Linked DNA regions of Homo sapiens. The protein of the gene in region 2 purifies or fractionates together with the protein of the main gene of each other region. This does not show direct contact. Each region holds a gene or a part of one and is shown on either strand. Other genes may lie near its edges.

Region 1 (7,025 bases), on a different chromosome or scaffold from region 2:
AGATCTGTGTTCTACTTCTATCCCTGCTGGTCACTAGGGATTACTTATTCTCTCCACCACAGCTTTCTCATCTGTAAAATGGGGACAATAAGAGTACCTTCGTAATAGGGCAGTTGTGAGGAGTAAGTAAGATGTTACAGGATGAGTACTTAACAGACACTGAGTAGTAAATGTTAGCTCTTATTACAGGCTACAGGAAAGAACTTTTAGGAATTAGTTGCAGCAATTCATGGCAACTAGAACTATGTCCCATTGAGCTGTCAGAAGTGTCCTGAGGGATCACAAGATCACAGAGTTTTATTTTATTCTTTCTGAAAAGAAAATCTAAGGGGAGTTTACCCAGTCTGTATGGGAGCCATGCAGATGATTCAGTTTGGCTCTTTAAAAGAACTATTTTTAAAAATAGAAGTAGGACTGCTGAGAAAAAAATAGTACTTTAAAGTATACATGGGTTGGCCAGGCGCGGTGGCTAACGCCTGTAATCCCTGCACTTTGGGAGGCCGAGATGGGCAGATCGCTTGAGCCTAGGAGTTCAAGACCAGTCTGGGCAACATGGCGAAACCCGTCTCTACAAAAAATACAAAAATTAGCTGGGCATGGTCATACGCACCTGTAGTCCCAGCTACTAGGGAGGCTGAGGTGGAAGGATCTCTTGAGCCCAGGAGATCAAGGGTGCAGTGAGCCGAGATTGCACCACTGCATTCCAGTTTAGGTGACACAGTGAGACCCTGTCTCAAAAAAAAAAAAGTATACATGGGAGTAAATGTATTTAGAATTTCTTCTCTGTGTGTCCCTGCTAGCAACCCTAGTCTGGTACCTGAATAAGCAGCATCAAGAGGCATCACACACACTGATGAGTGTGGTAGCTCAAAATACAGAGCCCTGATTCCACATACATGAGCTCCCATGTGTGGCTGGGGCTCTGCTGGGTCCTGGGGGCAGGAGGAGGATGGAGAGGCAGGCCCTACCATGGAGGAGGTTGTGATCTAGGGGCAGGCTCCTAACCAGTTAACATGTGCACAGTTTGGCAAGTCTCTCACAGAAGTCTATAGCATGTGGGGGAACCCAGTGGAAGAAGTGATCGAGCTCTAGGATGAGGAGGAGACTGGGGAGAACTTCAGAGAGCCCTTAGAACTTGAACTGGGACTGGGCACAGCAGCTCACACCTGTAATCCCAACACTTTGGGAGGCCGAGGCAGGAGGATCGCTTGAGCCCAGAAATTGAAGACCAGCCTGGCCAACATAGTGGGACCCCATCTCTACAAAAATTAAAAAAGAAAAAAATTAGTTAAGCGTGGTGGCATGTACCTGTAGTTCCAGCTACTTGGAAGGCTGAAGTGGGAGGATCACTTGAACCTGGGAGTTCCCAACTCCCAGTAAGCTGTAATCACACCACTGCACTCGAGCCTGGACAACAGAGTGAGACCCTGTCTCAAAAAAAGAACTTGAATTGGATCGTGAAGAATGAATAGAGTTTTCTGGGGGTCTATGAAGCCCTCCAGGCAGGGGGAGCAGCCTGGCACAAGCACGGATATGTGGTAATTTGTGTGGCACTTTAGGAACCACAGGAGTTCTAGCCCAGAGTGTGAAGGGACTGACTGCAGGATGTGCCTGAGAGGTAGGCAGGCACTAGGGCGCAGATGCTTGAATTTTGTATTCTGTTGGTGATGGATGCCTTGCATTAAGTGGAGGAAACATACCATTAGACCTGCATCTGCTTTGGAGGATGGAGTGGGTTGGGGAGAGGTTGGAGTCCCCATAGGAGGCTGTTGCAGTAATCCCAGCAAGGGCTGAGAGGGGCTTGGATCAGGGCAGAGGCAATAGGGTTGAGAAGAAGAGCAGAGATGAGCTGTTTGGGGGGAAATCAACTGGACTCTGGGAGTGTTTGGAAGTGATGCCAGAGGGAGGAGGAATGGTGACAGGTAACCTTGAGGTCCTTGGTTTGGGTGACAGAGTGAATGATAGTGCAGAGATAGGGATGGCTCAAGGAGAAGATAATGGCCAGTGAAATCTGCCAGCTTCGTTCAGTAAACCCTGGGCACACCCTCTCGGGAGAGGATCAGTTGGAAGGTCTTGTAGACCCCTGTCTGGACTTGGGCCAGGCTTCCCTTTGCTTTCGCCTGAATCAGCACCTGGGAGAAGGGCAGCTTTCCTTCCTTCACCTTTCCTCTGCCCAGATTTAACCAGGGAGGTGAACCTCTTCATGTTTCACATCTATAAAGCGATAAATCTTCAGCCTTCCAATAGCCCTAAGAGCAACCCTTCCCTCTGGCAATATCCACCCCGATTCAGCATACTACAGCCCACTGATGGGGTCCTGAACAGCAGAGACCCTCAGGGGAGAGAGGCTTTCTCAGTGCCCCCTGGAGATCTTATCTAGAGAGAGGTCTGGAAATTGGATTTGCTGCCTGAAGCTGGCTCAGCAGATTCAGTCCTTCTTCTCAGGAAGGACTGATATCTGCCAGAGGCCACCCAGGACTTGCTCAGAACCTTCAGGGAAGGGAGAGAAAGCTGCCCAGTGTCCTTGACCCTTGAAGTTCTAAGGGAGCCAGAAGCTGTCCCTCAGCTGGATTGGACTATAGTGAGGGGTGTGCTGGTGGGCGGGCCTTCAAACAGGCCCTTTGGAATTTGGGAGATTTTTTTACATGATTTGTCCTTGGGTTTGTGGTGTAAAGAAAGTAAACGAGAAAATGATCTGAAACAAGAGCACTTCTTTCTCCTCCACCTGCTCAGGTGAGACTCTGACCTCGAAGGTAGTCGAGGGCCCACAGCAGCCCCCGCATATCCTCCCAGGCTCTGTAATCAAGATCCTAGAGGGGAAAGGATGCAATTGCTTGCTGTGATTTACTTACTATCTTAGAGATAGTTCCACTTTGGCACATGCAGGTCTGGGTCATTTGTGGCTATGATGTGTCCCACTGTGAGTGTAATTTATTCAACAAGCTCTCTGCTAACAAACACTTGGGTTATTTTCTGCATTCTACTCTCTAAACACTTCTGCTGAAGTGACTTTCTTCATACATATGATTTTGCCCACCTTAGGTATCATCTGCAGGATAAATTTCTAGAAGTGAATTGCTGCCTCAAAGACTATCCTTTATTATTATTATTGTTAAAGAATTTCTAGGTCTCCTTTTAATAAATTGGGGCAGCCTTATTTTTCCCCCAGCAAGTGAATCTGTTCTTTTGGGTTGAGGTCGTACGTCCTGAGGGGAACACAGGTGTTCCCACTCCCTAAAGAGGCTACAACCCAGGCCGGGCGCGGTGGCTCACACCTGTAATCCCAGCACTTTAGGAGGCCGAGGCAGGCAGATCACGAGGTCAGGAGATCAAGACCATCCTGGCTAACACGGTAAAACCCTGTATCTACTAAAAATACAAAAAATTAGCCGGACGTGGTGGTGGGCACCTGTAGTCCCAGCTACTCGGGAGGCTGAGGCAGGGAATGGCGTGAACCCAGGAGGCGGAGCTTGCAGTGACTGCCCTCCAGCCTGGGTGAGAGAGCGAGACTCCGTTTCAAAAAAAAAAAAAAAAGAGGCTACAACCCAACGGTGTTCATTCTCTCCTGGCCATGACAGTCAGTCTTGGGTGTGAGTTCAGGCTCCCCAGAACTTAGCAGTCTACAGGCCTGACGGTTTCAAAGGAACTCTAGTTGTTGGAAAGCACCAGAGGTAGAAAAACTGAGAAGGGGTCTTGGCATGCAGAATAAAGCTGTCCCCTCTAAATATGTTTACACACTGCCACCTACTTGGCAAAAGAGATAGAAGATCTTCAGCCTTTAGGAAGTCTGGATGCAAGGGTCCAGAAGGAAGAGAGAGTGGACTGGTCATTGTAGTGGGAATTGGCAAGAGCAGGACTGATGTGCTTGTCATTTCTCTCTGGGGCAGAGCTGATGTGAGGTGTGTTGAGGGGACAGCAGTGCTTCTAGGGAGAAGCTCGGTTCAGCGCCTTGGGGACCTTGGGCCTGGTGTAGCCCAGCATTCCGTGGGGCTTTTGGAATCCTGTTGCTGGCATCTGCCAACCCTGGGGAGCAAGAGTCCTGCTACTTTTTGCAATAAGTATGGCGCTTCCAGCATTACTGAGTTTGGGGTAAGTTTCATAGTGTGTGTTCTTTTCTGACTCCTGGAGTGGTCCCTTCTGAAAAAACAGGAAGGAAACCAGCAAAAAAAGGAGGCCCGGCTGGCACGGTGGCTCACGCCTGTAATCTCAACACTTCGGGAGGCCGAGGCGGGCAGATCACGAGTTCAGGAGATCGAGACCATCCTGGCCAACATGGTGAAACCACATCTCTACTAAAATACAAAAAATTAGCCAGGCGTGGTGGCGCACGGCTGTAGTCCCAGCTACTCAGGAGGCTGAGGCAGGAGAATCGCTTGAACCCAGGAGGCGGAGGTTGCAGTGAGCCAAGATCGTGTCACTGCACTCCAGCCTGGTGACAGAGCAAGACTCCGTCTCAAAAAAAAAAGAAAAAAAGCCCCACCACCTCCCAGGTCCTTTGTAATACTGCAATACGTTATTGAATCTAAGGAAGTAAGGGTTGTCTCTTATTTTACAGAGAACACTCAGGCTCAGAGCGGGGTAAAAAGACTGTCTACTATTACACAGCCAGTAAGGGCAGAGCTGGGATTTCCAACTCACATTTGTGTGACTCTAAAGCCCATGTTCCCTTCCTCCATCCTGGCTAGGCTCTGGTCCCAGGGAGTCCAGCCCACATAGAATCTTGGACTCATAGAGCCAGCCCCAAAGCTGAACCAGTCCCTTTTTTTGCCTGAAAAATGGAAACTGCCACTGCCTTGAGACAGGTCCCTCCCTGACCTGCCCTATGGGTAGTGGGCAAGGAGACTTGCAACCATGCAGTTAAGGGCCTAGGCTCAGATCAGATGTGGCTTCAGAACCTGAAGTGAGTGACCTTGAACAAGTCACTTCCTGTCTCCAACCCCAGCTTCCTCCTCTGTAAAATGGGCATAACAATTCTTGCCCTTAAGGTAGTCATGAGACACAGGGCTTTATAGCCTCTACCACGTTCAGCCTAGTGCATGGCAGGCAGGCAGGACCCAGGGGCCAGCTCCAGCAAGGCCCAGGTGAGCTCTTGGCAGTGAACCTGTGAGTGTACCAAAAGAGGCATCCTGAGCCAGTTTTCAGCCCTTATGGATGCCAGGGGGCAGGCAGGAAGTTCCTTATAGGCATGTTTGCAGCCTATCTGGAGAGCTGCAGGGGTGTTGTCTTTGTCCTTCTGCCTCTCACTCTTTTGCTGCACCATTGCATTGGCACACAAGCTCACACATCCAGGGCACTTATGCTTACACCTCTTCCCAGGCCATACTCTCTCAAGTCTGCCTTCTCTGAGGCTCAGCCTCCCCTGATTCCACTACTACTTTTTTTTTTTTTTTTTTTTTTTTTGAGACGGAGTCTCACTCTGTTGCCCAGGCTGGAGTGCAATGGCATGGTCTTGGCTCACTGCAACCTCCGCCTCCCAGGTTCAAGCAATTCTCCTGCCTCAGCCTCCCGAGTAGCTGGGACTACAGGCGAGTGCCACCACACCCGGCTAATTTTTGTATTTTTAGTAGAGATGGGGTTTTACCATGTTGGCCAGGCTGGTCTTGAACTCCTGACCTCATGATATGCCACCTCAGCCTCCCAAAGTGCTGGGATTACAGGCGTGAGCCACCACGCCTGGCTCCACTACTACTCTTAATAATTCTAATGGGTTCAGAAAATCTTTAGATTTTAAAAAAGTATTGTTAGTTTAATAGTTTATGGTACAATAGTTAAATAATATGGGAGAATATAAAATAAAGCTCTCCCTCCCCTCCTTGGGCCCTTAGTTCTATTGACTGGAGGTGTCCACTTAAATTTCTTCTAGGCTGGGCACGGTGGCTCATGCCAGTAATCCCAGCACTTTGGGAGGCCGAGGCGAGTGGATCATGAGGTTAGGAGTTCAAGACCAGCCTAGCCAAGATGGTGAAACCCCGTCTCTACTAAAAATACAAAAAGCCAGGTGTGGTGGTGAGCACCTATAATCCCAGCTACTCGGGAGGCTGAGGCAGAGTATTGCTTGAACCGGGGAGGTGATAGTTACAATGAGCCGAGATTGTACCACTGCACTCCATCTCAAAAAAAAAAAAAAAAATTTCTTCTAGAAGTTGCCTATGCGTATTCAAAAGTGTGTATAATCTTTTTTAACCCAAGTAGGATTATGTTGTACATATATTCCTGCAGTGTGCTTATTTTGGTAACATAGACATCTTTATCAGCAGGTGTGGACCTAGTCGGAAAGGCTGCATAGTATCCATTGTCTAGCTGAACATAATTAGTTAACCAGTCCTCTCTGGATGGCCATTTAGATAGTTTCCTGCCTTGGGGGCATGTGTGTGTGTGTGTTGATTTTTATGGTTTTGTTTTTTGCTGCTACACGTGGCTCTATAGGGACTTTTGTTGAGCACATTATCTTTGTGAACCTGTGTGAGTATATCTGCAGGATCCATCCCCGGAACTGGCATTGCTGGGCCCAAGGCAGGTACATTTTCTTTTTCTTTGTTGGCTATGGTTTCACACCTTTTTTCTGCATACCTTCTGGGCTTGTGCAGAGCCTGGGAGGCCTGAGGTGGACCAGACCCTTCTCGAGACCTACATATAAGCAGACAGGTAATGAACACGCCCTCAATGCATGGACATAGTCTTTCACTGGTGGCTGCTGGCCCTCGTGATCTGCCGTGTCCAGCTCTTGGTGATTCAGAGCAGGTGAAGCCAACAGAGGGGCACTCTGAAGGGATCGCCTGCTCTTGGCTTTTCTAATCATACCAGGCAGCCTGTTGCCCCTCTGAGCAGCCATAGCCCTCAACATTCAGTCAAACTTCAGAAAGTGAATTGTATTGCTCGCTGTCAAAGTCGTGAATTTTTTTTTTTTTTTGAGATGGAGTTTTGCTCTTGTTGCCCAGGCTGGAGTGCAATGGCGCGATCTCAGCGCACTGCAGCCTACGCCTCTGGGGTTCAAATGATTCTCCTGCCTCAGCCTCCCTAGTCAC
Region 2 (7,145 bases):
TTGAAAACAAAACAGGTCTGGTGCTGTGACTCACACCTGTAATTCCAGCACTTTGGGAGGCCAAGGTGGGAGGATTGCTTGAGCCCAGGAGTTTGAGACCAGCCTGGGCAACATAGAGAGACACTGACTCTAACAAAAAAAAAATTAAAAAATTAGCCAGGCATGGTAGTGTGCACCTGTAATCCCAGCTACTTGGAAGGCTGAGGTTGGAGGTTTGCTTGAGCCTGGGGGGGTCAAGGCTGCAGTGAGCCGTGATCACTCCACTGCCCTCCAGTGTGGGCAAGAGAGCAAGACCCTGTCTCAAAAACAAAAACAACAACAACAACAACAACAACAACAAAAACGGTATGCTATGGATTCCCAGAAACTGAACTTCTGTTCCTGGAGTTTAATAAAAAGACACAAGGTGGTCCATAAACATACTACAGTGGAAAGAAAATGGTCCTGGCACACAGGAGCCCTGATGCAGGCTGCCGGCCACCAGACCAGACAGGAGGTCACCAAAGGGCTTTTAGTTATCGAAGTTTTTTCTACAAAGAAATCCATAAGTCCAATGCACAAAACAGATAGGGTAGAGCTGCCCAATTTGGTTGCCAGGTAGGCAGCCTGCTTTTTAGCCACTGAGTCCCCCGTCTCCACCCCCTGTTCCCAGGACATCTCTGTAGAACTCAGAGGACTCAGACTGTCCAGCCTCTGGGTAGGTAAGTCCTGCAGTCTTTTATTTTTTAATGAATTGCTTGCCTAAACTGAAAATCAGGATATTTTACCAAAAAAAAGAAAGTCAACTTTCTTTTGAATAATTGGAGCTGTGGGCTGTGCAGTCTTTTATTTTTTAATGAATTGCTTGCCTAACCTGAAAATCAGGATATTTTACCAAAAAAAAAAAAGTCAACGTTCTTTTGAGTAATTGGAGCTGTGGGCTCCTGGAAACAGCAATTGATGAGAGAGCTGAAAAACAGTCTTCTTCAGTGGGTCACTTTCTTTTTGCCACAGTCCACGTGTGGCTAACGTCCTGAATTCTCATTATCCATCTGACTTTACAGTTACTCCGGCCTAGTGAGGTCCACTGTAAAATCCCTGGGATATATATATGGCCTCTTGGGGATGTTCCAGCTCAAGACATTCTGCAGCTGTAGAAAAATTATTACTATATTAAATTAAGTTGTTACTAAATTACAAATTCCTATTAATTCCCATTTTAGTAAGGAGAAGTCACTGTTTTAGTCATTCTGTTCTCAAGCTATAGCTCTTATATTTGCTTAGTCAGAAACCATGTTGGCAGTATAATAAAATGAATTAGAATGTGGTTGATTGTCTTCTGCTGGTAGTTCTCATCCCTGTCCAGGCACCTCCTCCCTTGCCCCTGCCCTCAATCCACCCCTAGCACTGAGAGGTTGCTGAGAGCAAGAACCCCTTCCTCCTCCTCCTGAGAACCTTACAGCCCAGCTCCACCATCAGGCACATGCTGATGTCTTCCTAGAAGCCTCCCCACCCTGGTTAATTTGTTTCAAATATCTTAGGTTTTTATGCTCCATTTACTCGAGTTAATCTGCAAATACTTACCTACTCTGTGAATGTTCTAGGATATAATATTAGATACATCATCACTTCGGCCCTGGGGACAGATCCTTCATCCTGTTGTTTAGTGGTGTCCTAATCACCAGGAGGAGCTAAAGAGTTGTTTTCTAAGCTGGTATCTCAGATACCTTTCACACTTCCTCTGATTTCCAAGTTAGATGGTAACAATGAATGATGCACAGATATAATACATACACAATCTAAAATACTCCAAGTAAATATAGGAGCATTCGATTTCAAAATTCAGCATAAAGAATAAGTTTCCAGGTTGAGAGAACTCCTCCAGCATCACTGCCTGGGGTGGCTCCAGGCACGTTCTTTACCTGTCTTGAAGGTCGAGTTGTCTTTAAAGAAAGACATTTACTACAACGGCTTTGAAATTCCATGAAATTATTCAAAATGCAGAACAAGGTCAGAACACGTGAAGGGGAGGGTAGATTATGCAGGACAGCCCTGGATTTCTAGACAATAGCTGCATTTCTGACCCCAAAAAGGCAACTAATATGGATATGATTTTGATTTCATCTAAGAGAGGTTCTCAAAGCTACAAATAAGCATTGTAAGGTTTGGGCAAAAAGGAAACTATCAGTAAATTTGAGAAAAGTGGCCAGGCACAGTGGCATGCGCCTGTAATTCCACTACCAGGGAGGCTGTGGCCGGAGGATCCTTTGAGCCCAGGAGTTCCAGGCCAACCTGGACAACATAGTAAGACCACATCTTGAATTATTATATATGTATGAGAAAAGTGGAAATTATAAACTAAAATCAGGATTTGTTCTCATGAAGGTAGTCAAGTTTGGAAAATGTGTAGTGGAGGGGATGTGGTTCTTGCATTAGTCAGCACCGGGAAGATGGTGTCGGGGAACACGCTAAGCCCATATTGTACGTCTGAGTTTTCAGAGCCTTGTCAGCAGAGCTGTACTACCAGATAAATCACGAACAAGAGTGCGTTCAAAACCACAACGCTGCCCTGGAAGGCTTTCCAAAAACTCAACTGATAGGTGATAAAAATTTTTTAAATATGACTTGCGTTATTATGATATTAACTGTGCAAGAAGGGGAAAGGTAGAAAAGACAATCTTGGCGAGTAGATAGATCTGCTGCTCATGGCAGACACTAGGGATGGTACCTGGGTGTTCACTCTGCTCTTCTCTTTACTTTGGTTTTTGCTTTTTAAAAACGAAAGGAGCAAAAAGAAGTGGAAAGTCGTGGAGGCACTCGGCCCAGCCCCCACGTAGTTCAAGGAGACCAGGAGGGAGCTGGCTGGTGGAGGTCCTGCCCACCTGCCACACTCCGTATTTGGGCAAGCCTGTGAGTCACTGTCGGGAACATGGCTCCCTTCGCCAAGGCCAGCACTGACCACTATCCGTGTATCGGTAAACGCAGGGAGTGTGCCACGTGCCTTGACAGTCTAGCGCGACGACTTAAGAAGTCGCGGCTAGGTGCTCTTTTTTCCATTTTTTTACGTCTCTTCCGTAGCCCGGGAATTTGGGAGAGAAGACTACCGTATCCAGTTAGACGCAGAAATAACACTAAGCAGCTATCAGCTCAAAATCACAGGAAGAGATCCCGCGCGGTCGTCTCAAGCCCCAGCACCAAACGACAGTGGGCGTCCCAGCGGGGGCACCCGAGCGCGGACCTTCACATCCTCCGAGGAACGCCGCACCCGCGTGGCGGGGGTGGGTAGATGGACCTCAGCGAGCCTCGTTTCCCAGTCGTGTTACGCAACAACTTTGCAGCCGTCATCTTCGCCCTAATTGTGCAGGGGGCGGTGTTTGTGCGTGGAGCTTTCCCTCCCGGCTCCGGGCCGTCGCGGCTCTCGGGAGAGGCGCCGGGACATTTTAATCGCTGCCTCCGCCGCGCAGCCCTGCGCAGCTGCCCGGCCGCGCCAACCCCTTCCCCGCCGCAGCGCGCCCCGAGTGTTGGCAGCTTGCCAGCCGCCACCCCCCGCCTTCCCTCCTGCCCACCCCAAGGTAGAGGGCTCCTCTCGGGAGTGTGCGGGGAAGGGGAGGCCGAGGTCCGGGCCACGCCCGGGTAGCCGCAACCCGCAGTGCTCAGTCGGCAACAGGTAGCCCAGCAGGCTGCGGCTCTCAGGAAGACAAAAAGCGCCTCTGCGAGCAAGTGAGGGTCGCGGGGAGCGCAGAGCCACCGCGGCGACCGGGAGGGTGAAGGGAGCCAAGAGCGGACGGGGCGGTGGGACGGGGGGCTCCCGGGCTCCTCCGCAGGCTCGCTCCGGTCGTGTCGGCCGCGTGGGCCGTTGCGCAACACTCGTTGCGCCGGGAATGGGGCGCCAGCCCTCGCGGGCGCTCGGACGGCGGTGGCCCTGGCCGGGGAGGGACGCGAGCTGGTAGTGGCGCCGCCGCGGAGGGGGAGCTGAGGGCGGGGAGGCGGGGCGGGGCCGCGGAGTGCCCGCCCCGGCCCGCCCCTGCCGGCCGCGGCCATTGGCGGCGGGCCGGGGGCGGGTGCGGGCGCGGCGATTGGGGCCGCGGCCGCCAGTCACGCGGGGCTGGCGGGCGGCGACGTAGCGCGGCGCTCGGAACTGACCTACTAACACACATCTCTCCGCGCGGCCACGGCGCCCGCGGACCCGGCGCGCCCGCCCGCCTCCCGCGCCGCGCCCTCGCCGCCGCCCGCCTCCCGCCGCGGCCCCGGAGGCCCGGCCCGGCCCGAGCCCCGAGCGCCGGCGGCCCGACTCCCGGCCGCCCCTTTCTTTCTCCTCGCCGGCCCGAGAGCAGGAACACGGTAAGCGCTCCGCCCACCGCCGGCCGGGGGCCCGGCGACCGCTCCCAGGGCGCGCTGCGGGCGGGCGGGCGGGCGCGGGGTGCGGGCCGCGCTGTGTGCGGGGTCGGGCTGTAAGCTGGGCTCGCCAGCGGCGGCGAGTGCGCGCGGGGCATTCATTACATAAACTTTTGCTGCCTTGTCAGGATGGGACTCGCCACCTTAAGGTGGCTGCTTTGATTGCAGCGCCTTCGCGCCGGCACGTAGTCCTGGCTGGTTTGCGCTCTCCCCCCGCTGCTGTTGCATAATGTCTCCTGATTTCAGGAAAATTGATGTTTTGGTAAAGAAGAGCGCCAGGCAGGCTGAGCCCTCTCCGAGCGGGAAGATGCTCTTTCCTCTCTAGTGTCTTTCTTTCTCGTTCCTTCTCTGGGGCTGGCGGCGTAGGGGGGAGAGGAATGGGGGGTTGAGGAATGGGGAATAGTCTTAATTTGCTTGGTGAGAAAAAGGGTTGGTAGCGTGAACGGTGACGGCATTCGGAGAATGCCTGCGCGGCGTTTGTTTGTGTCAGGGGCTGTGTCTGCACAGACGTTTTCCACCCTGTTTGTCGTCAGCGTGTTTTACAAGCCCTCGGGAAGGTTGTGGGATTTGTCCTTTCATACATTGCATAATCTGCCCACGGTGAAATGTTGGCAAGAATTGCGGGCTGATGTGGGAATATGCGCGTATGTGTGCAATGATTTGGTAATTGAGGCGCAGCGTTGGATATTAGATCGTTATTTACGTCTATATTACGTCCCAAATAAACAGGTTTTAAAACGATACTACAAAACCTAAAAGCAAGAATTGCTCGCATTGAATTCTGATCTTGGGTACTACTGGGGTTCGCCCTTTCAATGTTCTCAGCTGTTATTTTTAAATCTGGGACGAACCATTGTGACGTTTACCTCCCCACCTTCCTAATTTTAATGCATTCCATTCGATCAGCCCTTTTTCTCACCTTATTGTCATTGCTTTTTCAGACACGACAAGACAAATCACATAATAGTTTCCTGGAAATGTTGCATTATGTAACTGCCGAATTTGCTGGCAGTGAGCATAGAGAGAGGGAGCTAATTACGTGATTTTATAATCTTGCTACAAAGAAAGTAGGACAGTCTCAGCCTTTAAGAATGTCACTATAACAGTTTTTTTTTTTTCCTTAAGGATATTTTAAACAGGAAAGTAGACAACCGGGTAAGCATGGAGTTTGCTCATGCTGCCGAATGTGTGTCTTTTGCCCTAAATGAAACGCACGTTCTTCTAAATTTAGCCCTATCACATTTTAACAATTGTGGCCTCGCAGTGCTATTTCTGGTGTTTTCTCCAGGGCTGTGTGCAAATACAAGTTCAAGGCCATTTGCTGTAGTTTTAACTCCACGCCTTCGGAGACCTTTGATAAGATTGTATTTTTAGGAAGGCATTTCGCAGCGCCCGGTGATTTGCTGGATGCTGGCTCCCATTTATGTTTTTAAAGGACACTTTAGGAAACTGCTGTTCTCTGAGAACAGCAGGGAATGGCCAAGTGTCATCTTCTGTTCTTGGCTTTTGTAAATAACAACAGTAAGTGAGGTCAGAAGTATTTATTTACCCCCAGACCAGATATGACCTATGGGAAACAGATATAGGTTAGTAGATTGTTTTTTTGTCTGGATACCCTGGTTTTACTTATGTGAAGATGTGTGAATATGTAATTTACCCAAATATTAAATTTCTTCCTGGACTGTTACATAGTGATTATGTGTGAATATATGTATATGATGGGATGTATATATAACGTAACATTTAAATTAAGTGCAGGGTTTTTTTTTGTGGGAGGTGGGGGGTGGACGTCTCTGGAACAGAGTATATTACCCCAAATAATTGCAGTCGCTTTCCAAGAAGCTAGTTGCTCTAGGCCCCCAGCTTCAGACCCCGACCTACTTTGCGAGCTCGGGTGGGAGTCCCAGGCCTGTAGGGGCCGCGTGGCGCCACCTTCCGATCGCGATCTCCAATGGCGAGTCCGTGCGGCCCCCAGTGCGCCGCTCCCTCCTGCGGGCCGGTGGGGTCTGCGAGAATCCGGGGCTGGGGGCGGGTCTGGTAGTGGCGGGCGGGGACCTCGGGTCGGGACCGAGAAGCGCCTCCGAACGGCAGTTATACTGGGGCTGCTCAGTGGCCTGAGCTCCTCCCTGCCCCCTCCCCACATTCCTTTGTTCTGGCGCGGGGGGTCCTCGCGGCGCCGAGGCCCCGCTGCGCCGCCCACCCGGAGGGAGGAGGGTCTCTGGGAGGCGCCGCGTGGGGGCGCGGCCCGTGGAGCCCGGGCGCTAGGGACCGGCCGGGGCCGGCGTACGGGTGCGCTCTGGGTTCGCCCGGGCCGCGGGAGCCAGGGAGCCAGGGAGCCAGGGACCCCGGCTCCCGCACGGGGCAGACAGGGGCAGCGCGGGCGACCCGGAGCGCCTGCGTCTCCGCGGCCCTCCTTCCAACAGGGCAAATCCAGGGGCCTGACTCCGCGCCTGTTCTGCGGTGAGGTTCAGAAACCTGCAGACACCTTTGTTCCAAGAGTCTTCATTGTATTTCGGAACCAAGCGCGTCTCCATTCTTGAAGTGAAAAAGACCTTAAGAAAAACCTCCAAACGTCCACCGGCCACAGAAATTGGGGGTGGAGGCGCTCCAGTATTGATAGTGATTAAAAGGAAGGCCTCAGCTTGACTTTGGCCAGTTGAGTTGAGCCGATTTTTTTTAACCTTTAATTTATGTGGTCAAAGGCTAGAGGAGAGAGAACACTGATCTCCAGAGTTCAAAATAAAATCTAAACGCCCACATAGACGCTGCTG

What was found. The genes of interacting proteins can lie anywhere in the genome.
Region 1: the proteins of NFIL3 (region 2) and STK40 purify together in Homo sapiens (affinity purification with mass spectrometry; 2 studies listed by BioGRID and IntAct, with this or other methods). This does not show direct contact.

The regions. Positions count from the first base shown.
Region 1 is NC_000001.11:36,375,908-36,382,932, reverse strand, and holds part of STK40 (serine/threonine-protein kinase 40), read left to right. Parts: intron 1-7,025. UniProt on the Homo sapiens protein: May be a negative regulator of NF-kappa-B and p53-mediated gene transcription.
Region 2 is NC_000009.12:91,420,815-91,427,959, reverse strand, and holds the start of NFIL3 (nuclear factor interleukin-3-regulated protein), read left to right. Parts: upstream 1-4,127; 5' UTR 4,128-4,320; intron 4,321-5,531; exon of another isoform or gene 5,532-5,960; intron 5,961-6,255; exon of another isoform or gene 6,256-6,338; intron 6,339-7,145.